4 linked regions of the Homo sapiens genome follow. The protein of the gene in region 4 interacts with the protein of the main gene of each other region in a pairwise test. Each region holds a gene or a part of one and is shown on either strand. Other genes may lie near its edges. The genes, in order: JPH3, A2M, MECP2 and RAB38.

Region 1 (7,024 bases), on a different chromosome or scaffold from region 4:
CCCACTCCCCTCCCTTGCCTGCAGCCTTTCGGTGAGTGGGAAGCGCCTCTGCTGCCCTGAGGTTCCCTCTGGCGCCCTGGCCCGGGGACCGCGGCCTCGCTGTGGAATGTGCTGGGTAACGCCGTCTGGCGTCGTCTTGTGTCCCCATACAGGGCTGGAGTACCAGAGGCCGAAGCGTCAGACCTCCTGTGACGACATCGAGGTGCTGTCCACCGGGACACCCCTGCAGCAGGAGAGCCCCGAGCTGTACCGCAAGGGCACCACTCCCTCCGACCTGACCCCCGACGACAGCCCCCTGCAGAGCTTCCCCACCAGCCCCGCGGCCACCCCGCCGCCCGCGCCCGCCGCCAGGAACAAGGTCGCCCACTTCTCGAGGCAGGTGTCGGTGGACGAGGAGCGGGGCGGGGACATCCAGATGCTCCTGGAGGGCCGGGCCGGGGACTGCGCCCGCAGCAGCTGGGGCGAGGAGCAGGCCGGGGGCTCCAGGGGTGTCCGCAGCGGTGCCCTGCGCGGCGGCCTGCTCGTGGATGACTTCCGCACCCGAGGTTCGGGCCGCAAGCAGCCCGGGAACCCCAAGCCGCGGGAGCGGCGGACGGAGTCACCCCCCGTGTTCACGTGGACTTCCCACCACCGGGCCAGCAACCACAGCCCCGGAGGCTCCAGGCTGCTGGAGCTGCAGGAGGAGAAGCTGAGCAACTACCGGATGGAGATGAAACCCTTGCTGAGGATGGAGACGCATCCCCAGAAAAGACGCTACAGCAAGGGCGGCGCCTGCCGGGGCTTGGGGGACGACCACCGCCCCGAGGACCGGGGCTTCGGGGTGCAGAGACTGCGGTCCAAGGCCCAGAACAAGGAGAACTTCAGGCCGGCCTCCTCCGCGGAGCCCGCCGTGCAGAAACTGGCGAGCCTGCGGCTGGGCGGGGCCGAGCCCCGGTTGCTGCGTTGGGACTTGACCTTCTCCCCGCCCCAGAAATCCTTGCCTGTCGCTCTAGAGTCCGACGAGGAGAATGGGGATGAGCTCAAGTCCAGTACGGTGAGTGGGCGGCCACCAGGCTGGTCCCAGTGGAGGCAACATCCACCTCTCTGCTGACCTGGTGTTTCCTGAGGGTTTCCAGCAAGGTCACTGCTCCCCTGTTCCTCTCCAGGGGTGGAGTAGGGTGGGGGTACAGCCGGGAGTGGTGGCCCTCAGGTCGCTGGGACCCTCCCCTAGGAAGCCAGGTGGGGCAGGTGTCATACCTCTTTCCGTGAGAGGCTGCCCCCAGGTTGTCCAGAAAGCACACGAAACTCCTGGTTTCCAGGCAGCATGGGATCCCTGCGCTCCCCGCAACGTGCTCAACCCCAGCTGCTCCAAGAGTCTGTGCCCCTGGTCAGTAGCCTTGGGCCGTGAGATGACCGCTTGAGTGTCCTGTGTCCTGGATAGGAACCCAGAGGCGAAACAGCTGGGGGCAAGGCTGGCCCTGGGGCTGGGAGTCAGGTCTGGGGTTGGGGGGAGCTGCCAGTCCAGGTTTCTCTCACCCATGGGGGGTGTTGGGGTTGGAGCCGGCTCCCACGTGAGGCCCGCTGTGTGCAACTCACCGTCAGCCTCACCCAGCACCCCCCCCCCAAATTCGTTCCTCCAGGGCAGGCAGCTTGGAGGGAAGAACAGCGTCCCCCTGGGCTAGACTCGGCGCGAGGCTGGGGGTCCCAGGCTAGACTCGGTGTGCGAGGCTGGGGGTCCTGGTGCCTCACACAGGGCTGGCCTCCCCTTGAAGGGACCTTCACTCTGCAAATCCCACCCTGCTCCCTTGACCAGTGCTGCAGGAATGAAGGGCTTTGGGAATGAAGGGCTGTGGGACGGTGGCTACATAGGATCTGCGCACGGCCAGGCCCTCACCCCAGCAGGGCTCTGCTCGCTCGTGGCTGCCAGGCAGTGCGTGGTGCTGAACAGAAGTGCTGCAAGCCAGTCTGCCCCTCGGGTGTGAGGACGCAGGGGGGTGTCCGCAGGGGGCGCTCAGGGCGTGTGGGCCGGGCAGGGGGGACCATTGGTAGGTTTATTGTCGACGCTGCGGCAGGGGTCGGTGTCTGTCCCTGCCCCTGACCTAGGGGAGCTGTGGTTTTCTCCTCCTGCCAGCCCCACCCCCAGAGGGGTCACCGCGTGACACCCCTTTGAAGGGGCACGTCCTGCCGGGCGGCAATGCCTGTTTCTGCCTCTCCTTGGAACCACTGCGGACGTCTGTCTGTCCTGTTGGGTTCCTAAGATGCCTCCCCGTTCCCCAAAGCCCACAGAGAACAGCCCCTATGCTCCTGCTGGGACCAAAATACCAGCTCACACTTACAACTTGATTTTCCCCATCGCAGCCGGAGATGTGTGCGTGGCTGTGCGCGCGCGGTTATTTTAGGAACAGCCAAGCAGTGGGCAGGGTGGGAGGTGTAGGGACGGGTTCTATTTTTAGCCTGCTTAATGCACTGACACTTTTGGGTGCTTTTAAATGAACCTCCCTGGGGGTCAATGCACAAGCTGGGGACAAGTGCCAAGCTGGCCTCTGGGATGAGTTAGCGACACGCAGGGTGCTACATGCTGCCCTGGTCCTGCCCGGTCTCCAGCTGGGGCTAATCTGGAGGTCCCGTCAGCTGCAGCATCATGTCCCACCCACCCTGGAGGATGCCAGCTGAGCTCCTTGGAAGTGGCCACCCTGGGGTACCTGGTGCTGGTGCAAACAAGGTTTCCCTCCCTGTCTCCCTCCCCGTCTCCCTCCCCACAGCTTTGGAGCTGTGTTTTCTGCCAGGTCTGTGAGGGGAGATGGTGTGTAGAGGCGCGGTCAATCCTAAGCACTGTTCCAGGCCCTGTTGGTGGGAAGCAGGAGGGGCCCGTGCCAGCCGGCATCCATGTCAGGGGACAGGTGTCAGGGCAGTCGGGTGCCAGGCTGGGCTGAGTGCCTTCAGTGCCACCCCCTCACAGGGGTACAGCTCTCTGCAGTGTCTCCCCTGGGCCACCAGCAGGGTCTGGGGTGCTGTCTTCTGGCCATCCCCCTCCACCATTCCCAACATGCTGCAGAGCTCACACGCCAGAGGCCCTGGGTCCCACTGGCCACAGATGGGCCTGGGATTCTAGCCCACATAGGGTCCCACTGGCCACAGATGGGCCTGGGATTCTGGCCCGTGTAGGGCCCTGGCAATTCAGGGTAAAGTCCCTTAGGATGGAAGCACAGGTTCTCCCTACCGCTCTACTGGTGAAGGAACTCTGGCCCTGGCTGTTTCCCTCTTGGTGAAATGATGGATATGACCTGATGGTGGGGTCCAGGGTTGGAGGATGGCTGGGGAGACAGAAGCTTCCCTCCTGCGGGCAGCCACGCCCTCGCCCACAGCGTCCGTACCTGCTTCCCGGCCCAGAGCACGGGCTGGACTGTGGCAGAAGAGGTGCCACTGACCACCCCACTCTGTCCTGCTACCCCACTACAGGCTGACTAGCATCCGGCCCTTCCTCCTCGCTGGGGTGGGGGAACTTTGCACCAGGGGTGGCATCAGTGGGCAGGGCTGGGCCCTTGGCTGTTCTCTGCCCCCTGCAGGCTGGCCCGGCCCAACCAAGTTGTCATGGGGCCCAAGACTCACAATACACCTGCCTGAGGCCACGATGCCACGGAAAGCTGGGCTCAGGGCAGCTTGCTTTCTCTCTGGCTGAGTGGAGGCCCTTGCTGTGTCCACAACTCCACTTCCATCTGCGCCTCAGGTCCCTGATAGGCTGGGAGGTTGCGGAGGGTGTGGGCCTGGTGCTGCTGTGGCTGCAGGTGCCCCCTAGGCAGCACCTCACCCTCTGAGGACCCTCCTCTCTGAGCTGCATCCCAAGGACAGTTTACAAAGCCCTTTGCTGACTGGGGTTCAGCTTATCTGTTGAGCAAACTTTTTCTTTAAAAAGTTTCTTGGCCAGGCACGGTGGCTCACACCTATAATCCCAGCACTTTGAGAGGCCGAGGCAGGTGGATCACCTGAGGTTATCAGTTCGAGACCAGCCTGGCCACCAGGGTGAAATCCTGTCTCCACTTAAAAATACAAAAATTAGCCGGGCATGGTGGCACACGCCTGTAATTCCAGCTACTCAGGAGGCTGAGGCACAAGAATTTCCAGAACCCGCAGGAGGCAGAGGCTGCTGTGAACTGAGATCATGCCACTGCACTCCAGCCTGGGCAACAGAGCGAGACTCCATCTCAAAAGTTTCTCAAGCCAGTGTCTCTAGGGCCTGAGGGCTCCAATCCCCAGTGTGAGGTGAGGCGCTCGGGCCTGGGAGCTGATGCCCAGCATACAGTCGGGGGTGCCCCTGCCAGGTGTGGTGCAGAGCACGGCGGGGGTGTGTGAGACCTGAGGATAGCGTCTGGATGTTTCTCTCACGTTAACGGGAATGAGATAGGCTCATTGGCTGCTCATCCCCAAATCCAAATGGAAAACCGCCATTCGGGCCAGGCAGAGGCAAGTACTCCCACCCGTTGCCGCTGCCGTGTTGAGCCCACCGTGCCGAGTGGTGTTGGCAGGAGCCTCCCGAGGAAGCTGTGCCAACGCAGGAGTGGTCAGAGCCTGTCCAGGCCACAGACGGGGCTACGATGAGCACTGCTGCCCAGGGCATGTTGGGGGCAGCTCCTGGAGACCACAGGGAGGGGAGGTGGGCACCCAGGTGTGGGCAGAACTGGACCAGGAGGAGGAGGGGCAGCAGCTTGCTCAAGGCACAGGGCCTCAGCCACAGGGTGGCGGGCTGGGAAGGGGCGAGGGTGTGGTGGGTTCTGAGTGCCCCATGCAACGGCTGTTTTGGGCCACGTGCTCAAGCAGGCACCCAGGGAAGACCAGCCTAGGTGCTGGCGTGAGGCCCTTCAACATCAGCTACGATGCTGCTTCATCAGGAGCACAGCCTGGGGAAAGAATGAAACTGACCCAGGAGACAAAAGGGTCCCCGGGCCAGACGGTCAAGCAGGAGGCTGCTTCGCTGCCGCGGGATGTGGCATCCAGGCTAGGCAAGGGGACGGCAGGCTGCCATCCCCAGAGGGAGTTCTCCGGGCAAGGCCGTGACCCCACTGGGGCTCTGAGTTTGCATCCTTCCTGTGTGTCAAGAGCAGAGCCGGCCACTGCCAGCCCATAGCTCCCATGGTGCGGCCCTGGAGAGCTGACTTCATGCGGGATGTCTGCTGTTCTTTGCGTAGCTTTACTGAGACAGAAAGCGTGTACTGTTCACTTCAGGTGGCCACAGTGTACAAGTCAGGGATTTTAGTGTATTCCCAGTTATACAGCCATCACCCCCAATTCTATCTAGATCAGCTCCATCACCTTAAACCTCAGGGCCATTGAGCAGGCACTTGCTGTCCCCTCCTCCCCCAGCTCCCGGACTCTGCTTTCTGCCTGGTGCCCAGCTTCTCACGCAGCATGCACTGCTCCTGCGCTTTCTCTGTGGCAGCCGCGGTTGCACGGCCCATGTCTTCCCCGCTGTGTGTTCATCCTCCACTGGACAGCTGGCTCTGCTTCCACTCCGTGGCTGTTGTGAATCCTGCTGCCGGGAGTGTGTGCACACACAAGGTTTTGAGTGGAGGCTTGACTTTGCCCTCTTAGATTTAGGCCTGGGAGTGGAACTGCTGGGTCCCCGGTGTTCTCATCAATTCTCTTCCAGTCTCTGGGAGAGGAGCCAGCAGCAGCTGCTTCGTTGTGGGTGGGGGGAAGGGGGAGGCCCGTTGTTCGGGCTCCCCTCCTTAATGCAGGCCTGAGCAGCCCTCACCTGGTGCCACATGAGCTACTCAGTCTTAACAGACCACCCCATCATGTCTTTGAAATTTGACCAGAGGCCAGACTTGGGGGCTTAAAGGAGTCCATGGAAAACCAGTCTGTTAACAGGGAGGGGGAGGAGAGTAGCCATCCCTGAGGAATGTGCATCCTGGGACCTTCAGGACAAGCCCTGGTCCATCTGTGTCGCACAGCAGCAGGATGTCTGCGTGGTAGGAAGTGGAGGGCTCCGGGGGCTCTGAACAGCTCCTTACCACAGTGGGGTCTACATCTCCTTCCAGGTGGCTGCGAGATGCAGGGCGTGGTGGGGGTGGGGAGAGGCAGGGGCAAGTGTCCTCTGGAAGCAGACTGTGGGCAAGACTGGAGTGGGTGTCCCAGCCATTCCTGGGCTGGGGCCACCGTCCAGGAGGCGTCCATTCCCTGTGCAGCAGGTACTGTATCTGTAGGGCAGCACCCACCCCTGCCGTCCTGGGAGCTTCCCAGAGGGGCCACGCTCCCTCTCCCCCTGCCTGGTGTGAGCAGAACACAGCAGAGTGCAGGACTGCAAGAATCACTGCAGAAGGGCGCCCCCGGAAAAGGCTCTGTTGTGAGACGTGTCCTACCTGGCCCCGGCAAGCACAGGGAAGGTGGCAGCTTGGTCCGAGTGCCCAGGCTGTGCGGCTGAAGGGGGAGTCTGGCACTTGGGGCTCCGGCGGAGGCTGAGGACTTGTGAGCCACTTCAGGGAGGTGGTGGCAGCAGCATTCAGGACCATAACCTAAATCCAAGGCAGCTCGCAATTGGACACAGTCCTCCAGAGCCAGTTGGCGTGAGGGGTTTGTTGAGGAAGGTGTGGTGAGGGGGGGTTTTGTTGAGGACACTGTGCTCACGGACTTTGGGAGTCCTCTGAGTTCCAGGGCCTCTCTGCTGGGCTGCATCTGACACTGGCCATGGCAGCCATGCGGGCCCTTCTGAGATTCTGAGGTCCCAGTTCCACAGGGCAGGAGAAGCCTGCTGACTGGCACAAAGGCCACACGCACCGAGACGTTTGCTTGCAGGGAGGCCTGGGTGGTTCTCTCCAAGGGGACCCTGGGAGAGCTGGTACTCAGGGTGTCGGGGCCACAAGGGAATTCCAAGGGAATTCCAGGACCAGCAACCTCAGACGTACAGGCAGCTGGGGCTTCTCTCCCGCGTCTGGACTTCACGGAGCTCAGGTTCTGGTGGGCCTTTGGTGTCCAAGCGTTTCTAACATCCTCCCGTACGCTTCCACCCCCGAGGGTCTGCTAGCTTGGTGAAAAGACGTGGGTGGGAGGC
Region 2 (7,024 bases), on a different chromosome or scaffold from region 4:
TACACTTCTCTTTCATTCTCAAGAATCACTTGAGCCAGTAGAATTATTTCTAATTATTCTTATAAATTACTAGTCATGAAATGCCATTTTTATCTTTGATACACGGCAAGGTGCTCATTAATTGTGGTGGGACATGCATGGGTCTAGGTGCTCTTGCATTTTTCTTTTGGCTCCTTAGTAGTCTTAAAAACTTGCTTACATATTTCCCAACGTTTCATCATAGAAGAAGGGAATAACATACTCTGAACTGTGTAATTGGTAAGAGGCACTGCTAGGAGAAGTTTGAGAGTTTTGTATAAGGAATCAAGTGATTCTGCTTCTTAGTGTGACTCTGCCACTACCTTGCTGAATGTCTCTGGGGAATTTGTTTAACCCTTTTGGCCCTAATGTTCACATGTGTAAAACAAATGATAACAATAGTAACTTCTAGTTTTACATGTTGAAGATTTTATGATCTAAAACACACACCTTGTTGGCCAGACAATTTTCAACATCATATTTTGCAGAATCCCCAATCACGTCCCCGGTAGGTAAAACAGCATAGATGAGCAACCGAGCGACAGGAGCAATGTCTGACTTCACAGGGATTGAGATGGAAAAATGGCCCTTCACTGGGGCACAAAGAGAATGAGAGGAAGCCATCATAGGTTAATGACTATTTCCATTAGTAGATGTAACAGACATAATAAACAGTAGATGTAACAAATGGATGATTACCTCTAAGGACTCTAGCTTTAGAAAAAAACCCTATCAAAGCCCTCTCTCCTCTCATAAATCATATACTCTGTTGATTTTTCACCAGCTTTAAGCTTCAGCTCACCCACCTAATGTTCTGATGCTAGTTAAGGGTATGAAGACATCCAATTCACTACCATTTGATCTAGGCCTCATACTAGAAGAGGGAAATAGAACCTGAAGTTATGAGATGTAAGAGTAAGAGTTCAACACATTGTATTCATGCTACATGCTCTTTAACCTTCTATGAGCCAATATTTGGTTCTTTCTCCATAAGAGGAACACCATGCTCCTTCAGAAGTTATTTTTTGATGCCTATGTAGATTCTTTAGAGGTTGCATTAAGTTTCCTTCAGTCTGCTATGGTGCTTCTGTGTTGCTACAAGAACTAATGAGAGAGTAGATTACTGATACTTTTCTAGCAAGTTATCTTTTAGAGTCTACTAGACTAGGAGCAACCTTCAAAGGTTTATATTATGACATATTTGCTCATGGCAAGAGTCCGCTTCAGTCGGTAGAAGTACCCAATTTAATGCTTCATAAATCATAACTATCTTGAAAGGGAAAAAAGATATTTATAATAATATAAATGACATAAATGACTCAGCACAAGACCTGGTATATACAACATACCTTGAAATCGTACATTTTCTCCACCCCATTCTCTAACACAATTCTCATTTTGAGAAGAGGTTCAAGAATATTTATGGTTTAAAAATCTGGAATAAGCATAGATTATACACAACAATATTTTATGTATTTTATTTTTCCCCCTTTGTTCTTATTTATTTATTTATTTATTTATTTACTTTTATAGAGATGGGGTCTCACTATGTTGACCAGGCTGGTCTCAAACTCCTGACCTCAAGAGATCCTCCCATCCCGTTCTCCCAAAGTACTGGGATTACAGGCGTAAGCCATCATAGCTGGCCCACACCAATATTTTAAATAACGCAAAGAAAATAGGCTGAAAAAAAAGACAACACATATTTGATAAAGGGTGAGAAAAAAACCATTATTGTTTTCCCTCCCTCAACTTTCTTTTAATTAATATTAGATGGAAATGGTCTCTCGTTACTTGAAAGTATTCCTGATATTCCCAGCTCAGGAATGGAAAACCAAACATCATATCTTCTCACTCAGAAGTAGGAGCTAAGCTATTAGGAAGTGGCAGCTAAGCTATTAGGAAGTGGGAGCTAAGTTATGAGGATGCAAAGGCATAAGAATGATACAATGGACTTTGTGGATTCAGGGGGAAGGGTGGAAGGGGGTGAGGGATAAAAGACTGCAAATTGGGTACAATGTATACTGCTCGGGTGATGGGTGCACCAAAATCTCGGAAATCACTACCAAAGAATTTATTCATTCATGTGACCAAACACCACCTGTTCCCCCAAAAACCTATGGAAAAAAAGGGAAAGTATTCTGATACTTCCGTGGTGTAAGGCTGAATGGGTCAGAATGGGGCAGCAATGCAGAGATGATGGAAATACTCACTGTCTTCCTGCTTCACAAGCAGTCCATGAGTCCCAGTTCGGACAATGCCTCCCTTTGCCATTATCTGCAAAAAAGGAAATAAAAAGAAATTAAATGTGCCAGAGAGAACACGCTTCAGTCTCACTTCAATATACTTGTTTTATTGAGTCCCTGCCGGCAATAATTCACCTCAAGAGAAATCAAACTTTCAAAAGGAACATGGATAAGAAGTTGAAGTAATGACATCTAAAGAGCTTCATGATTACTTGCTCCACAGAGAGCTTTTGTCTACAGTGAAGTCAACGCAGTAACCTCCCTTCTCACCAGATAATAGAAGGAGAGCTTCTTCAGCCCCAGCAGGGTGCCTCCATTCAGAATATAATGTGCCTGGACTGTCTGAGTATGGCCACAGGGTAGTTCATGAGACATGGGCTCAAGGTGGACAAAGCTCTTGCTTGGGGAGAACACAAGATAAGCAGTGTGATGTGCCTCTTCGTGTTCTTCTGACACCCACTGGTAGCCGTAACAGGGACTACGATCCTTGTAATTGACCTAATGAATTAGAAAAATTATATTATTTTTAGATTATACGTCATAAAGATTAATGTTCTCACAAAACTACGTAAGTTTACTGTCCTACCTTAACTAGTAGCTAGAAATCTTTTGTTCCACAATGAAAAGTGGGAGAAGGACCCCTGATTTTGTTTCTCTGCTTCAAATGTAGGCATGCTTTGTGACTTTACACTGCAGAGCCTCCTGGGATTGAGATTTATATTTCTTAAGAGCATAAAAGGAGGCATCCTTTGCTCTGATTAGCTTGCTTGAAATTTCTTTGACTGCTTTACCTGTGCAATTAGAGACACTGGAGCTATGAAACTTCATTGAGGAGAGTAAATAATCTCTAGAAATGGAAGAACTGTGCTTTCAGAAAGCAGCTGCCTCTTTTAGGGTGGATTTTGAATGGGTATTATGAATAAATAAAATATTGTAACCTTAGGGGTCTGAGAAGACATTGGTAGAAAGCATTGGTTTAAGAGCTGAGCTGATGAATTAGCTGAAGTCTACCTCTTCTGGGCTATCTTAGGCTGATTGCTATTATTATTATTTTTTTGAGACAGGGTTTTGCTCTGGCGCCCATGCTGGAGTACAGTGGCACAATCTTGGCTCAGTGCAATCTCTGCCTCTGGGGCTCAAGTGATCCTCCCAGTCAGCCTCCTGAGTTGCTAGGACTACAGGTGCATGCCACCCCACCCAGCTAATTTTTTGTATATTTTGTAGAGACAGGGTTTCACCACGTTGCCTAGGCTCGTCTCGATCTCCTGGCCTCACGCAATCCACCCACCTCAGCCTCCCAAAGTGCTGGGATTACAGGCGTGAGCTACCGTGCCTGGCCTAGGCTGACTATTTTTAATGCTCCCTGCAATCTGGATTCTAATACCTCAGAGGCCCTATTTGGGTTATATTTCCAACTTTTCTTCCTGTAGAAGTTATTCCTTAGCTCCTTTCAGGCTTCCTCTACCTTCATCCCCAGCTCCCAATAGCACTAGTGAATCCTTGAGCAAAACATTTTGTTCATATCTTAATGTATATTTTGGTGACAACACATATATGATCACCCCAAACAGGGAACAGGTAGAAATAATAATTTCATTGTCAAGACTAGCACAGTGCTGGCACGTGGAAAGCATTCAAGACACTTTTTGAAATGAGTAAACATTCAAATTAGAGGGAGGTGCTTTTATGCCATCTATTAAAGCTAAATAAATAAAATGTATTATTTATTTCTCTATAACAAGGTAAAACTCTAAAGAGGCAGGCGTTTTCCATTACCATGATTATGTAATATATATTAAATATGTATTGTATATCCATGTATCTATAGACATGTCTACATCTCTCTTGATGAATAGAGGACTGCATGCTATACCGAATAACTTATATTGGTATGAACAGGTCATCTGGAGAAAATTAGAATAGCAAGACAAAATAAAGTAAGGTAATAATTTTTGGAGTATATATATTTAAAACTAAATGCTAATTATGTTAGAATTGGCTTTTATAGTAAAAGTATCTAACAGTTAAAGGGGGCTTACTAAGTGATTCAACATGTATGATTTCACTTAATCTTCACAACCACCCCAAGAGTCAGGTGTTAGTATTGCAATCATTTTACAGATAAGGAAATGAAGCACAGAGGTTTTAGTTAATTCCTTAAAATAGGGTTGAGCCAGTATTTTTAACCACTTTATCTGATTCAGATTCTGGAATTCACACTTTTCAAAAAAGTTATTATAAACACACACACACACACAACATAAAATTACCATCTTCATTATTCTTTAGTGTACAGTTTGGTAGTATTAAGTATATCTGTTGTGCAACAGATCTCCAGAACTTTTCATCTTGTAAAACTAAACCTGAATACCAATAAGAGGAATTCCCCATTTCTCTCTTTCCCTAGCCCTTGGCAACCACCATCCTGTTTTCTGTTTCTATGACTTTGACTACTTTAGAAACCCCATGTACGTGAATCATACAGTATTGGTCTTTTTGTGACTAGCTTATTTCACTTACCATAACGTCCTCAAGGATCATTCATGCTGTAGCATGTGACAGGATTTTCTTCCCTTCTCAGGCTGCATAATATTCTGTTGTATTTATATACCACATTTTGTTTACCTGTTCATCCCTTGATGGACATTTGGGTAGCCTCGATCTCTCAGCTATTGTGAATAGTGCGGCTATGAACACGGGTGTGCAAATAGCTCTTTGAGACCCCGTTTTCGATTCTTTTGAATATATGTCCAGAAGTAGGATTACTGGATCATTTGGTAATTCTATTTTTTAATTTTTTCAGGAACTACTATACTGTTTTTCATAGTGGCTCCGCCATTTTACGTTCCCAGCAACACTGCTAAAGTCTAACCCGCACTTTTAATCACAATATACTGCCTTCTTTTCATAAACTTTAAAAAAGTTAACCTTCAATCGGTTTCTAATTGCTAGTTTTTTTCTCTCCATAGAACTAGACACAGTTTGGAAATTTTCTCACCCTTAGGTTGCAACCTTGTTTCCAAGGCTACTTCATGTCATTGGTAATTTCTTTCCAAACTTACCCTAACAGTAAGAGAGGTACCCATAACATTGGTGGTGTTGATAGAGAACTGTACAAGGCCATGCTCATCCGTGGTAGCATTGGAGTAATAGTTTGCTTCATTTCCTCTGATGAATATGACTTTATTTGGTATAGGGACGCCTTTCCCATCTACTAGGCGCACCTGAAGATTAAAAGCTGTGGATTAGTTATATTGGTAATAACTAATAGGCACCAAACATATTCATTTATCACATTTTTTAGTGCCTCCTCTATGTTGAACATGGTTCCAGGCACTGAGGACACAGCAGTGAAAAAAAACGAAGTTTCTTCCATCACAGAGCTTACTGTCTAGTGAAAGAGATAGATGCTAAATAAATATATACATAACATACACTAATTTAGTAGTAATCAATCCTAAGAAGAAAAACAGAGCAGTGTGAAGGGATAGAGAGTGATAGGGATAATAACAAGAGTGACCTGAAAAATGTCTTCTAGATATTTTGGAAGTGCTGTGTATTATTATATATAACTCTTAGAGAGTCACAGAGCACTAGAGTAATATGATAATGAAATATTTTAATCTATTAATCTATTAACTAAATTTATTTGTGCCCCAAACACCTATTTTGGAGTGGACCATTAACTTCCTATAGATTAGTGTCTGAAGTCTCATAAGTGCACAAGTAAACAATTGCCAATACATTGTCCTGTGTGTTTCTCCAGTTGCCTTAGACATGGTCTCTGCTTCTCAACCTAGATCTTCAGCCTTTTGGAAGGTAGGCAGATTTTATGACACACTTCCCATGTGAAAAATATAAAATTGAAAAGAGGCACACAGTATTAAATAAGTTGCCAAATCTAATTTACTGCTAATATTGTATTGGCAGTTGAGTAGTCCAGTTCAGATTGTAAAGGTGGCAATTCTTTTTCAGTATAAGCTACAGTTGGTAGCAGGAAGAACAATAGGCTGACCCCCATCAGTACTCATAATTGATTTACAAAATCTAAGTTTGCCAGTGAAATGTTGGCTGCATGTACAAAGACAAGAATAGGCACATAATTCTGATTTTCTTCTAGCTAGAGAGTCTTATGACAAATAGGATATTTAACAGCAATAAAATGTACTTACAAAGTACACTATCTTTCTGAGAAATTTACAAATGAGCTACACTTTCATTTTAGGAAGTTGAATACATTTTGGTGTCATGACATAACCAAGCCTTCTAGAATGTACTCCACTTTGTTGAGTCTATGCCTCTTTTACACCCTTCATAGCTGAAATCCTGTAACATTTACATTAAGAAAATGATACACAGTAAATACACATTGAGGCACATGTAACTGTGATCTCAGACTTCTAGAGTCATAAAGATCCATTTGCACATCTGCTGACAACAGAAAAATTGTAAGAGAAGATTTTTTTGGTAGATAACATGAAAATTCATAATTCAAAAATCTGAGAACCTTAAATAGCAGTGTTTTACCCCATGTTCACTGTTTTAGAAATATACTTGTTATAGAAAAATAGTGTAAATATACTATCCATGAAATAAACATTATTGTAGAATCTTTAATACTTCAAAATAAAAATTAAAACCACCTACCCACCTGTTTCCATACAAAGTTAGTGTTAGCATCGTAATGAAACTGGTCAGCATGAATTTTGAGATTCTTGTGAGAAAATGTCATAAAAACCTGAGACTGCCTGGTAAACCAT
Region 3 (7,024 bases), on a different chromosome or scaffold from region 4:
AGACAGATTTGTCGTTTTTTTTTCTTTTTTTTCTTTTTTTATTTTCCCTTGTCCTATGCTATGGTTATCAGAAATATTGTAATTAAGCAACAGGTATAATTTTAACAGGTCTTTTTTTGTGTGTGTGGAGCCACAAGCAAAATGAGTTTATAATTGTGCAATATACAGATATATATATAAAAATTCAACTGCTTTGTGTGTCTAGTCGGTGCGTTAAATAAAAGGGACAGAAAAACTAAAAGCAAAACTAAAAAGCAAAACAAAAGCCCAGGATAGAGGAGACAAAGCAGGCCTATGCGCACAGTCTATGTGTTACTGGATATAATCAGGGTCACCAGGAAGAACAGCTTTGCCACTTGACACACAAACACTGCGGGGAGAGGGGCTATCAGTGGGCAGGAGCCAAACCTCTTGGCCTTTTCACCTCATCTGCTCTCACTGCTGAGCAGGACCTGATTAAAGGTAGGACAGAATGGGGGTTTGGGGGCAAAGAGATTTCCAAATTCCCCAAATGTTCTTGAATTCAAAGGTAGGATTTCCTCCAGGGTCTGGGCTCTGCCTGTGCACAAGTCGGAGCCCGGAGCGGGAGCTGGGGGTTGTGCTCCCTCCTTGCACTGCCCTCACACCTGCTTCCTTCTGCCTCCTGACAGGGCAGGCAGGGGGCCTTGGGGAGGCAGTGAGAGGCCAGCTCAGAAGGCTCAGCTGATCCGAGGCGAGCAGAGCAGGAGTGGGCAAGGCAGGCTGCCCCTCAGGCAGAAGTGCCTTCCTAGTTCCCTGGGTGTTTTCCTGACACGTCAGCGCTGGGGCAGGCTCTGTCAAGATGAGAAGAGTGGGAAGGAGGGTGGTGCTGGGCCTTCCAGGTCACTGGTGAACGCTCCACCTTCCATACCACTCCCAAAAGACAGGTTCAGAAGCCATGTCCTCAGGTCGGCTACCTCCAGATTCCCCTTGCCTGTAATGCTCACCAGGCATCTCAGGCCAAGTGCTAAGTATTTTTAGATCAGCACTGTTGTAAAAGCTTGCTCGTATTCATTCAAAAACATCGAAATGTAATTTTCTGCCAAATGTTTTCTAGGTTTTCCTTCTAAATTGTTGAGAACTGACTTCAGTGTTCAGCTTTTCCCCTCTAATATGTAATTTTAGACCCTGGGGGAGGCAGTATCCTAACGATTTATAACAAGTAGACTATGCCTTTTCTAAAGATTGATACAATATCTAAAAGAGAAAGACACCAAAATGGAGAGAATCAACAAATCCCGTCAGAGCAGAGAGAAGAGTAGGAAGACCCGGAGGGAGCAGGGCTCTGCCCCCCCACCGGGCAGGTCCTCCAGACCCACTCCATGGTAGGAACTCTAGAAACAGCTGACTCCCTGAAGTCTAGGACACAGGTCCTAGAATCTGCAGGTGTGAACTTGAAACAGGAATCCATTTGGGGCAATGACACAGGCTAAAAATGTATATGCCCAAAGATCTTCTTAAAGAACTGGTACCTGTAACCTCCCCTGGCCCAGTCAGCCCAGAGAGCCTGACTGGAATGCTCTGGAAAAGGAGCTGTGGTTAGACGGGGGACACAGAGTTCTGGCTGTCAGGCTCCACTTGGGCTAAACCAATTCCAGATGGTCCCGCGCAGGGGACTCCGCTCGTATCCCTCTGCTCCCTCCTGGGCTTGAGCCGCTTACTAAGTGATTTAAAATTCAGAGATTCTGTCAGCTAAAGAAACTCCTTTCTCCACCCAACTTGGCAGTTTGTGTCTGGTTATTACCCTCTTTCGCCATCACTGTCACAGCAATGAAAAGCTGGGCAGAGAAGCAGGTGACAATTTGGGGCTGCTCCCTGTCCCAGGTGCACTGTTCATGCTTCGGGCCTGGAATGATGCCACCCAACAGAAGATTGTCTGCACCCGCACTGGCGCTCACGAGTAGCAGCTTCCGCCATCCAGCGAGCTGAGAAGCTGGGGCCGTTGGCTAGTTTGGCACTGATGGATTGGGGGATGTGGCGTTTCTGGGTGTCCCCTGTGTCTTTTGATATGGGAATACAGCATCAACAGAAGGGAGCTGTGCTAGCGCCTGGCTGTGACCAAGTATCTCCAGCTCACTGAGCTGTCAAGACCGGCAATCCCACTGGCTATGACAAGCCCACCAGCAGGCAGGGCCGGGAGGGGTAGACCTGGGGGGAGCTCGACGACATACAGTATTGTCAGGAGAGGAGGTAGTAACTAACAACTGGAACAAGGGTGGGGGAGACTGTGGATGTGGCCTTAATGACCTAGCCCCATGGGTACTGGAAAGCTGTCGGTCAATTCTGCTGTTCACAAATTCACTGAAAGAGGCCCCCATCTTCATAATGTTCAAGTACAGACAAAATTGAAATTGAGGTCACACCCCAAAACTGGGCCGGACACAGCTGGTGAGAATCCTGCAGCTTAAGGCTTTCCCTCCAACCTCCTGTCAACCTGACCCCAAGGCAGGGGCAGCATGAGAGCTGCAGGGCCCCTGCCTGCCAGGGCGATAAACCGCCAAGGCTGCCTGCTGAAAGGCGACTGACTCGTGATGCCTTTGGGAAAGACGAGGGAATGAGGAAGAAAGGGGGAAATAGAGAGAAAACCCTAAGGAGCCTCAGGCCCCACTGGCAGCTCTGGAATAAACTGGAAGGGAAAGAGGCTGGGCAACTGCCTCTTTGAGGGAGCTGCAGGTGGGGCCCGAATGAAATAAAGTGACGCTTGAAATGCTGTGTTCCCAACCACGACTGCCCCATCGGCCCTGAATGAACTGTCATGGGTGACAGGGGGGCCTGGTGGGCCACGCACTCCTCTTACCAGGACCAGATGACGCCCAGGTGACGGGGAAGCAGCTCTGGACAATGATTCCAGAAGCCACATTACATTTGACTAAGTATAATACATAAAAACCCAACTGACCAAAATAAACATCTTCTCAGTGACAACCTGGTCGGATGCTGCGCTCTCGTGGATAAGTGTCCTTTGGTAGTGCCAGGAGTTCGAGGCCACTATGGGGGCAGGAGCCTTCTGTCCTTGGAGGAAGAGTTCTGGAGGACTCACCCTCTCTTCTGACCCCCCTTCCCTTCCTGGGGAAGAGTCAGAAGTGAAGCTGGGGGGGTCATCAGCAGAGCAGGTGGAAGGGATCAGGGATCAGGGATTGGGCTGATGGGAGTTTGGTTGCAGGACTTGCTTTTACAGCATAAGGAAATGGACACATATATGCTAGAAAGTCCAACTATGAGACTCTACAAACAGAACGGGGCAAACTCCCTCACTTCTAACCATTCCAGAAGAGACAAACACGGTTTTTTCTTAAGCTACTGATTGGAACTGTCAACTATGGTTCCTGATCACTAAAGACTGGCAAGGAAGTGCTAGACAGTTTCTATGATGTTTCACTCCTTCATGATTACACCATAGTAAGGAAGCCAGGGACAATAACTGAAATACACAAGACAACACACACTTGACAGTTCATGGCAGCAGCTCACATGGGACATGCCTGTGGGTGTTTCTGGAAGCATAAGACTGCTGTCTCATTTGCTACTTTGATAAGGTACTTCTCAGTTGGACAGATTTAGATATAAGAGACATCTCTGTAAACACAGAAAAGGATATACCAATATGATGAAGATATGCAGCTAGATAAGGACTTCCTGAACAGAGGTTAAAAAGATGGGATCCCACATGAAAACTGATCAATTAAAAACCCACAGCAAGCCCATGCCTCTAAGCCCCTACACCACAGCTATGGACCAGACAGACAGTGAAATGTGTGGTGTTCTGGCCCCCTGTCTGCATCGAGCAAAAGCAAAACATTGCCATTCAAGAAGAACTCCGAGGGAAAAGGGGGAGCAGAGGAAGGGCTGGGGACCCAGGTACTGGTCCCAGCTCGGGTCTTGGGAGTTCTGCATTGGTACCGCTACTGCCCTGCTGCACTACGCTAGACTCTGGACTTCTGAGTGAGGTCAAGGTCGGCTGGCATGGAGCCCCTGTTGGGCCACTCGATGACTGGCAGGCCACAGGAGGCCTCTGTGCTTTCCTCAACTACCAAATCGGGCCCAGCTCCTCCAGTCCACTTCTCTAGAGTAGAAGGGTGAAAAGGCTCGTTGTTCAGGGTGGGAAATGCCTTTTGCTTTTTCTTACCAGGGAAGAGGGGGCTACCTAGGAGAGCAAGACCTTGCTGCTCTCTTGCTCTTCACAGACAGGCCAGGTCGGACTCAGCAGAGCCCAAGGCCTCCTCAGGGCTCAAAACAGGGTGGGGCTGGTACTGGCAGCAGGAGGACAAAGGGCAGGCAGAGTTCTGGGGACTGGAGCCGACAAGTGTGGTTGGGCACCGCGGCTGCCTGGAAGAGAAGGGATGAACTAGGAAGGAGGAGGATGGAGGAAGGGAAAGAAGTGAAAGGATGAAATGAACAAAAGGCAGAAATGGAAGGGGAGAAGAGAAACCAATCAGGAAGTCCTTATAAAATTGCAGCAAACACTTAGAGTTTCGGAGCTTCGTGGGAACCCTATGTGCTGAGCCCACTTTAAAACAAGCGCAGGTATATATACAAATCCAGGTAGTTCTCAACACTGTCACATCTGGTGGCTTGAGGGACTAAATGTCACCAATTCAAGCCAGTTTGCTCTCAGAGCATCTGTTTGTTTTGAAGTGGGAACATGAAGACTCAATAGTGCAAATAATTCTAAGCTGTCCCTAAAGGAGAATTGGAAAGTAACTGGAAGAACATTTTCTTCTCCTCCCCCTTTGCCCCCTCCCCTGTCCACTAAGTCACAGACTGCTCTGAGTGATTAGGAATCCCTCTCACCCCGCTGTGCTCTGCCCGGCCTGACCCCAGGCCAGCCTGCCTGCACCTTGTCCTACTGCCTCCATGGCCTCTAGCGCCACCCGTTGGAGGACGTCCCTTGAGAATGGACCATGCCACCTCACCCTGGGCCATCCTCTCCTGTGGTTCAGGCCAGTCTACACCCAGTAGTTCAAGGGACTCCCCCCTCCTAGCCATGCCAGAGCTGGAGCAGACAGGTGCCACTTTCCTGTCCTGTGAAGCGTCCTTGCCAGTTTTGGATTGGGGCTGGTGTGGGGCCAGACTTGAGCCACCACGGGTGGGATCGCACAGGCCATAGCCACTGGTCATATCCATCTTCTCTAAAGAATCCAACTGTCTCTCCTGCCTCACACCTCCCTGTCCCAACGTGGTTGGGAGTGGGGGAGGTGGGGGGAGCTGGGGGAGCTGTAGACGGGGCACTGATGGCACCGAAAACGGGAGTGTCCTCTCAACTGCTCTGTCGCTCTGTCTCTAACGACCACATGGGGGAAAGGTTTGGGCGGGAGGGGAGGTGCCTGGTCAACAGCTTGTCTGGTCAGTAGTATCTGCAGCAAGCCTTGTTGAAGGAGCCTAGTTTAGAAAAGTGCAAAGCTACTTCTGGCCCTGGTTAGGTCTTCAACCTGACTGTGCTTGTCGGTAAGAAAAACATCCCCAATGCTCCAACTACTCCCACCCTGAAGCCACGAAACTCTAAGTTTACTGAAAGAAAAAAAAATATTTTTTATTTCAGTTAATCGGGAAGCTTTGTCAGAGCCCTACCCATAAGGAGAAGAGACAACAGCTGCCTTTATTCTTGTTGGTTTGCTTTGCAATCCGCTCCGTGTAAAGTCAGCTAACTCTCTCGGTCACGGGCGTCCGGCTGTCCACAGGCTCCTCTCTGTTTGGCCTTGGCATGGAGGATGAAACAATGTCTTTGCGCTCTCCCTCCCCTCGGTGTTTGTACTTTTCTGCGGCCGTGGCGGCGGTGGCAACCGCGGGCTGAGTCTTAGCTGGCTCCTTGGGGCAGCCGTCGCTCTCCAGTGAGCCTCCTCTGGGCATCTTCTCCTCTTTGCAGACGCTGCTGCTCAAGTCCTGGGGCTCAGGGGGGCTGGTGGGGTCCTCGGAGCTCTCGGGCTCAGGTGGAGGTGGGGGCAGGGGTGGGAGCAGTGGCACGGGGGCCTTTGGGGACTCTGAGTGGTGGTGATGGTGGTGGTGCTCCTTCTTGGGGGGTGAGGAGGCGCTGCTGCTGCGCCCCTTGGGGCTGCTCTCCTTGCTTTTCCGCCCAGGGCTCTTACAGGTCTTCAGTCCTTTCCCGCTCTTCTCACCGAGGGTGGACACCAGCAGGGGCTTCACCACTTCCTTGACCTCGATGCTGACCGTCTCCCGGGTCTTGCGCTTCTTGATGGGGAGTACGGTCTCCTGCACAGATCGGATAGAAGACTCCTTCACGGCTTTCTTTTTGGCCTCGGCGGCAGCGGCTGCCACCACACTCCCCGGCTTTCGGCCCCGTTTCTTGGGAATGGCCTGAGGGTCGGCCTCAGCTTTTCGCTTCCTGCCGGGGCGTTTGATCACCATGACCTGGGTGGATGTGGTGGCCCCACCCCCCTCAGCCTTGCCCCCTGGCGAAGTTTGAAAAGGCATCTTGACAAGGAGCTTCCCAGGACTTTTCTCCAGGACCCTTTTCACCTGCACACCCTCTGACGTGGCCGCCTTGGGTCTCGTGGTGCCGCTCCCTTTGGGGCGTCCCCGGCCTCTGCCAGTTCCTGGAGCTTTGGGAGATTTGGGCTTCTTAGGTGGTTTCTGCTCTCGCCGGGAGGGGCTCCCTCTCCCAGTTACCGTGAAGTCAAAATCATTAGGGTCCAGGGATGTGTCGCCTACCTTTTCGAAGTACGCAATCAACTCCACTTTAGAGCGAAAGGCTTTTCCCTGGGGACTGTGGGGACAAACAGAAAGACACAAGGAACAATTAGAGGCTCTCCATAGCAATGTCAGAGATAGGGCAGAGCGGATGGTGGTGACAACGCTCTGACAAACGTTACTATTGAACGAGAGTCACACTGCCTGGCTGCCCCTGAGGACCTGTCACCAAAGCCACTCACTCGTCTGCCTGCCGCTGACCCCCCCAGGCCTCTCCAAAGTTCAGCAACCAAAGAGTCAGGCCTGGTACAGAAGGGTTGTCAGGCTGAGGCCCATTCTGCTGGTTGGTGCCTGGGCCTGA
Region 4 (7,478 bases):
TTGAACCAAATGAGTATCAAGAGTCTAGCTGAGCCAAGATTCCCTTAATAACAAATGTATATGATATCCTATCAGAACAGTGCAGGTCTTCTCTATCTCATTGAACACCCACAACCTTCTCAAAGCTAGGCCCACTAACCTCCACTACCTGCTCTCTCCGGGGACACACCAGAGTTGAACACTAAGGACGGAGAGATGCATTCTTATCTGTGGACAGACAGGCTGTGATTTGAAAGTACTATAAGGTACACCTGGCTGACTGGAGTCTGGGTGGGCAGTTGAGGTTGTATTTCACATGAACTCATAACCCACATGGCTCCCTATGCAGCTTAAACCATGAAACATGGAGCACGTGCATGTTCCAACCATTTCCTACAGTGGCCTAGCTTTCACCCAATTCACTGTGCCTGCTGTCCAATCTATAATTCAGCTAACAGGGCCTTTGGGCTTAAGGCTGCTAAAGACAGGTTACCACTGAGCATTAGAGCTCTGGGAAAAACAAGCTCCTCTACTGAGATGTTGAATGTAACACCACCGCAGTATCTGTAGAATGAACTTCCCAAGACTTCAGATTTCTTATTTATACAGACTTCTGTGACTACAGCCTCCACTGCAACTTCAGTCTACAAAACATGGCTAACGAAGTGCTTTCGAGCTTGGGAGTTAAATTGCTCCTGAGAGTATGTCAGGAGCAAAGCTGAAAATGGTGATAACTTGGGGACAAAATATATATGTAATATTGGGATCACAATTTATTAGGAATTAATAAGCACTTGTATATCATATCCTTCTTGCCTAGCATTTATATAGGCTTAAAAAAATGGTAGCTAGTGTGATAATAATCCTTGCAGATCTCCTAGAGAACAGGCATGATCACCTTCAGCTAGCACTGTTGGTTGCTCACCTGTCATCTATTGGGAGAAAGCATTCTCCCTGTTTACAAGTAAGGAAACCAAAACAAGGAGGTTAGAGAACTTACCTAAGATTGCCTACTACATGCAGAGTAAAGTAAGGATCCAGATGGAGGCAGTTCAACTCTGGAATTTGGGCTATTAATCACTGTACCCTTCCATCTCTTCTGTTTATGTGAGGAGACTGAAATCTACAGACATAGAACTTCTCTGCTGTCATGCTGTTACCTGGATTGTACACAGAAGTCCAAATTACAGCTACATCCCCGTTTAAACAGTAAGCCGTTTCTAAATCTGAATCCTGAGGACTTTCGAGCAGCCAGAAGGGTTTTCAGACATTATGACATGCAGCAAGAAAGTACACAGAGAGAATTTTTTTAGATGAAAAGCCCCATCCAACAGTGGCTGATAACATTTTCTGTTCTCTGATAACCCCCTTGCTACTAGAGCAGCTGAAGATGACTCCAAATGCATGAATCTGTTCATCTGTTCACATGCTAAAAGAAAAAGGCCTGGCAGTTCATGATTAAAGAGGCACGAAAGTCCCCAGATCACAAATGCCCTTTCAAAAATTTTCCACATTTGTTCTAGTTTCAAGCCATGATAAAGAGTTTCCAATCAAATGCATCAGCTAAAATGAATCCATTTTCTGAAACAGAAGTGGCTAGTTTGGGTCCAGCACTTATAACGAAAGGTTCCTGGTGTCACAGACCATGAAATAAGACTGTTTGAAGTTGTTCCCATGGAGAATCCCAGAGGACTTTAAAACTTCTGAGCAGGAAGATCCTTGACCCTTGCCCAACTCCTTTCCACTTAACAGCGATGCAACTGAGCTGAAGAGACTTGTCCAAAGCCACTGAGCAGGTTAGTTAGTGGCAGGGCTAAAATCTGTAATGAGGGGTTGGTCATGCGCAGGTTGCAAACAGCCTTGTCCAAGGATTCACACTTGGAGTAGATACATTGCACCCTCACTTTTGACTAGGCCTAACTTCTGGTACAAACCTGTGGAGTCAAAATCTGATTTTAAATATTGTAAAAAACAAAAACAAACAACCTCTCATTTTTCAGATCTCTCAATGAAAACTTTAGGGCCAAATCAAGAAATCATAAGGCTATCATAGGCCCTTACATAAAAATGGCCTTAAAATATACACACAACCTCCTTTTCATAGAAGACAGAGAGCCAGAGAGATAGAAATACAGAAAGAGAGGGAGAAAGAATACTTTGCCCCTGACATATACACACAAAAGTACTTGGCTTACTGTAAGCAAAAAGCAAAAAAAAAAAAAAAAAAAAACAAAACAAAAACCCTCAAACTCCTTTGTCTTAAGGGCAGAGAGAAAGGTGACAAAATTTGAAATAAAGTGAGCCACTGAAGACAGGAATGGGCAAACTCCAGCTAGCCTGGAACTATCCCGGTTTCCTCTGTGAACCAGCCTAGGGGCTTCCCCTCGGTCCGCCCCTGCACGGAAGGACGTGCGTGACACTGGGCTGCGTCATTGGCAGAACTGCCCGCGCCCAGAAAACGAGCTGGAGTGGAGAACAGAATGCAATTGCAGACAATCTTCCTCTGGTTCCCTGGGGAGGCCTGCTCTGGGCAGAGAGATCCCAGGGGACTGTGCGGGAAGGAGCTAAAGCAATAGCCCAAAAGCGCCAGGGAATGCACTTGAAGTTTCAGACGTTTTTCTTTTCTTTGAAACTAAGTTTCCAGCCCACCAGGAAAAACTGCCTCGCGACCTAGTGATTTTAATCTCACGCTTGGCCGCAAGCCGCTGCCTCGAGACTGGAAACCGGCCGCGAGGCGCTCTATCCCCCTGACCCCCTCCCCCCGCGCTCACCTGCGATATCCCAGAGCTGCAGGCGCACCACAGTCTCCGGGTCCCAGTGGAGCACCTTGAGCGCGAAGTCCACGCCGATTGTGGCCCGGTAGTGCGAAGAGAAGTTCTGGTGCACGTAGCGCTTGATGATACTGGTCTTCCCCACGCCCAGGTCGCCAATCACCAGCAACTTGTACAGGTGCTCCTTGTGCGGGGCCTGCATCCTGGCGGCCGGCCAGACGTGCCGTGCCTGACCAGGGAAGCGCAGCCTGGGCTCTGCGCACGAGAGAGACTTGGGGAGCGCAAGTGTAGGTGCAGAGAGAGGCGTGGGCGGCGGGGCGGGGGCTGGGGGGCGGAACTCCTCCCCTAGGGGTTAATCCTCCTTCCTACTCCGCGGTCTTGGAGAGGGGAGGAGACAGGAGCGAGTCCCGGGACTGGCAGCTGAAAGGGGTTCGCGTGTGGTTGCCTGTTGCAGCGCTTATTTATCCGGCGCTTTAGAGTTTCCGAAGAGCTGTTTTCACCTGTGACCCTGGCCACAAACTTGTGAGGTGTGGATCTTATTTTCCACGTTTTGCTTGCGAGAAAACTGATTGTGAAAAAGTACTCTGCGGGAGATGGCCGGTGAAAGGCCCCGTTGACCACAGGTCTGAAGTCACAGGCTCTTAACTACCCCACACTGTAGAGAGAAATTACAGTATTAGGAAGCCCAAGACTGGCTGGGCTTGGTTCCTGCGTGCCCTGGTTTTTAAGTTGAGGGACCATAAGTAAGTCATTTGAGCTCTCACAGCCTGTTATTTCTCAATGAATGGCAATGCTGACCTCTGAGCAGCTTGGAGGTGGGAACACTGAGCACTTTCACACCCATTCAACTGGTAATCAGTTAACAAGGAGGACAACTGGGCCGAAAATGCCAAGGGCACTGGTGACTTTTAGCCTCTTCCCATATCCTAAAAACTCAGAGCTGCACAGAAAGACAGTTTTAACAATCGGTCAGATTATTACAAATAATAATAATGGCAAACATTTATTGAGCACTCGCTATATGCCAGAGGGTTTATAAATTATGTCATTTAGTCATCCCAGCTGTCTTAATAATAGATACCATTTTTCTTCCTATTTTACAAATGAGGAAGCTAAGGACCAGACATTTTAAGTAATGGACCCAGAGTCAAATAGTAAGGAAAAAAACCAAATTCAAACATAGGTCTTTAGGTTCCCAACTTCTTTTTGTTGTTTTTGTTGTTTGTTTTCATTCATTTGACCAATATACATTTTATTACCAATTAATATATGACAAATTGTACTTATTTTGTCTTGTCTGTCTCCACCTACAAGAAGGTAAATTTTTTTGAGGCCAGTAGGCATTGTCTGCGTTAGGATTTCTGTATCATCCTCCTAACGCAGACAATGCCTACTGGCCTAAGAAAAATTTACCTTCTTGTGGGTGGAGACAGGACAAGACAAAATAAATACAATTTGTCATATATTAATTGGTAATAAAATAAGGCAGAAAGGGGATGTGAAGAGATTATATGGGGTTTGCCTTTTAGATAGGGTGGCCAGGGAAGGTTTCAGTAAGATGGAGACAATTTAGTAAAGACATAAAGAAAATGAGAAATTGGGCATTCAGGGCTAGGGGGTGAGCAGTTTATACCAAAATGAGCTATTTTGTACCTGAATGTGCTGTGAAGGAGCTCTGCTCACATTCTATCATTTCATCTTCTCAATTGCTTTATGAAGTGGGTTATTTTCTTCAATTTATAAATAAGGAAACCAAGATTAACAGCAGCTTTCTCAAGGGCACACATAACTAGTATGTGTTAGAACTAGGACTTAAACACAGGCCTGTGTGAAAGGGAGAAAGGAGGTTTGGCAAGGCCATTGTCTTTCTGCCTTCCTCTTCTGGCCTGACACTCCCTAAACTTTAGCCTCCACATGCCCCAAACAAGCAGAGGGATGCTGAAGATGTGTACCCGGGACAAGTCACATAACCTCTGAGCCTTGGTTTCCACATCAACGAAAGGAGAATGATAATACCTATGGCAGGGCATGGTTGCTCATGATTGTAATCCAAGCACTTTGGGAGGCTGAGGTGGGTGAATCACTTGAGGTCAGGAGTTCAAGACCAGCCTGGCCAACATGGTGAAACCCGTCTCTACTAAAAATACAAAAATTAGCCGGGCGTGGTGGCAGGTGACTATAATCCCAGCTACTTGAGAGGCTGAGACAGGAGACTATCTTGAACCAGGGATGCAGAGGTTGCAGTGAGCCAAGATCACACCATTGCTCTCCAGCCTGGGTAACCTGAGCAAGACTCTATCTCTAAATAAATAAATAAATAAATAAATAAATAAATACAAATGAAATTGTTGATAAAATGCTGGGTCCATAGTAGGTGGTAAATAAATTGTAGCTATTACTATGAAATGAGGGACAAGCTTAAAATACTGTCCACAGGCACTGTCCTGTGCAGTTTCATCTTTCCTCAGAGAGTAACTCAGAAGTTTTGCTCAGAATGGACACTAAGTGACAGTGTGTAGAATTGCAGTCGTTTGTGTTTTATTGAAGTGCTTAGCTGGGTAGGCCTCATTTACTGGTTTCCACCCATGCGAGGACACACCAAGAAGATCACATCTAACAAGTGAGACAAATACTCTACCTGCTTAAAGAATTAGCCAACAATGTCACCTCACTTCCCAGGGAGGGGAATTCAGTAGCCCAAGATGCTTAAGCCATTCTAAATGCCTGCAAAATTAGGGAGGATGACAAAATGAGACCTTTGCCAGCTCTAAAATCCTGGGTCTGTAAATCTGAGAGACAGGCTTTGTCTGGCCAACAAGCTCCTGGGGTAGAAACAAGGTAGGAGTTTGAGACATCTTGTGGGCCAGCCTTCAAAATTATACCCAACCCAACTTTCTTACCAGCCCCGTACTGTTTTCCCAAGCCTGGTCCCGGCAGAGTCATCCTCACCCTTATCTGTTCTCTTTTGAGCAAGAGCATATTGGAACATCAGACATTTGGATTTATGAGGTAGGACAGGCAGGGCAAAGTTCAGGATTTCTGGTCCTGAAGCTGATAAAATTGGAGGAAGTAGCTTTTTGAGCAAAAGAATGCAAAATCAAAAATATATAATTAGGTCTAGGGCCTTGGAAGGGGTCCTGAAGCTTCAGTTTTATTGCCTCTCTGGGGGTAGGAGATTCCTCTCTCAGGGACAGCAGCCAACCATGGTGAGCAAGTTCCTTGGCCAGGCAGGAAGTATGTGCAGTTTTGTTTCCAGCCGTACTCATTTAGGTCTCATGATCATTCTTCACAGTGGGAAGAAATTACTCTCGGTTTATATTTTTAAGACTTTTAGATTACAGTAGCTTGGTAAGCACCCCAGCCTAGCAGTTCAGTAAAATCTTCGTAAAAGGCGCCTAGGTCTCTGAACCTGAAAGTCCCTTGGGTAAAATGAGGGAGTTAGGTTGCAAGATCTCTGGAAAGTCCTTTGGACTCTAAAATATCAGAATTCTGGGTCTTCTAGACATTGTCTAGTAGGAGTGACACCCTAGCTGATTCTAGTCACCCCACAAGAGCACCACTGCCAAAGAGGTGATGTTTTCTCTCCTCTTTTAGGTTTGGAAGAAAGGCCATCTCAAAGCAAACATGATGCCATAGTTCTCCTCTGGTTTCATGGTGCTATTCTTTCCTCTGCTGCTGTACATTTTCCCACAAGACAAAGGCAATCCAAGAACATTCTTTTTGGAGGACAAACCTTCATGTACTCCCCTTCCTTGCTTTGAACTTATTTTCTACACTCAGAACTAGGCTGCAGACAGGGAGCCAGGTAGCCAGGGACAAACTATAAACTGGATCAAGCCAGACAGTGAATAGATGGAAAGGATATTATCAAGCAGCTAGACCATTCTTGCCTCCTCTTTCATTCAACCCTGTCCCCTGCAATTATGATGCTTCTTCAGAACCTATCTTCCCCAACCTGAACATATACCTGTCAAGATGGCTTAGGATTATCAGGAGGATCTCAGCTTTTTCTGACACAAAAGATCCAGTGCTTCCTCCCCATGGAGAGAACAGCTGTGCCATTCGTCCCCCTCCCAGCAGCCACACTGCACCATGGAAACCTGTTCTCCACAGTAATTCTCAAAACATCTCTGGTGATGTTTTGACAAGCTTACTACCCTCAAATTGCTAAACCACAGCACATCTTCTCACCAAGGTCGGGAAGGCTGATGACTCAAGTTTGTAAAAGGTGTGTGAGACCACAAAGTGCTCAGAATTCAAGCCAAGAATGATATCCCAGAAGGCACAGCATTAGGTTTCTCTTAGTCTCCATTCCCTTTCTGTCCAATGTGGGTACTTAGTCTTATGAAATGGAAAAACTACAATGATTGCAAATTGCTTTGCAAATGTAAACTTGAAGGGACAAACCCTCATGTTTTCCTCCTAGAGCTGCTGTGTTTGGTGAGCCCCTGTGAAGTCACATTATTTGCTTTTGCCATTAAGAGAGCCATGGGGAGTTATTCATTAGCTTATGTGAGCTTTTAATTATTGCTCTGAAGAAATATGTAAATGACTGCAAGATGGGGTCCCAAGGGCTCTGTTATAGAAAAGGTAATCTAATTTTTCTTAGATTAATACAAGAAATATATCTTACAACAGATGAATTTTACTCTGCAAAAGGCCTGGAAGAAATGACCATATATTTTATCATTCAAACTATGACTCTTGAGAGTGAAAGGGGGCACTATG

Evidence for each region.
Region 1: the proteins of RAB38 (region 4) and JPH3 interact in binary tests that used the Homo sapiens proteins (3 or more experiments, as listed by UniProt).
Region 2: the proteins of RAB38 (region 4) and A2M interact in binary tests that used the Homo sapiens proteins (3 or more experiments, as listed by UniProt).
Region 3: the proteins of RAB38 (region 4) and MECP2 interact in binary tests that used the Homo sapiens proteins (3 or more experiments, as listed by UniProt).

Annotation. Positions count from the first base shown.
Region 1 is NC_000016.10:87,689,494-87,696,517, forward strand, and holds part of JPH3 (junctophilin-3), read left to right. Parts: intron 1-152; coding exon 153-1,033; intron 1,034-5,143; exon of another isoform or gene 5,144-6,648; intron 6,649-7,024. UniProt on the Homo sapiens protein: Junctophilins contribute to the formation of junctional membrane complexes (JMCs) which link the plasma membrane with the endoplasmic or sarcoplasmic reticulum in excitable cells.
Region 2 is NC_000012.12:9,098,913-9,105,936, forward strand, and holds part of A2M (alpha-2-macroglobulin isoform a precursor), read right to left. Parts: intron 5,489-7,024; coding exon 5,327-5,488; intron 2,763-5,326; coding exon 2,535-2,762; intron 2,296-2,534; coding exon 2,232-2,295; intron 612-2,231; coding exon 469-611; intron 1-468. UniProt on the Homo sapiens protein: Is able to inhibit all four classes of proteinases by a unique 'trapping' mechanism. This protein has a peptide stretch, called the 'bait region' which contains specific cleavage sites for different proteinases.
Region 3 is NC_000023.11:154,024,712-154,031,735, forward strand, and holds part of MECP2 (methyl-CpG-binding protein 2), read right to left. Parts: intron 6,743-7,024; exon of another isoform or gene 6,740-6,742; coding exon 5,656-6,739; 3' UTR 1-5,655. UniProt on the Homo sapiens protein: Chromosomal protein that binds to methylated DNA. It can bind specifically to a single methyl-CpG pair. It is not influenced by sequences flanking the methyl-CpGs.
Region 4 is NC_000011.10:88,172,433-88,179,910, forward strand, and holds the start of RAB38 (ras-related protein Rab-38), read right to left. Parts: upstream 3,012-7,478; 5' UTR 2,953-3,011; coding exon 2,751-2,952; intron 1-2,750. UniProt on the Homo sapiens protein: The small GTPases Rab are key regulators of intracellular membrane trafficking, from the formation of transport vesicles to their fusion with membranes.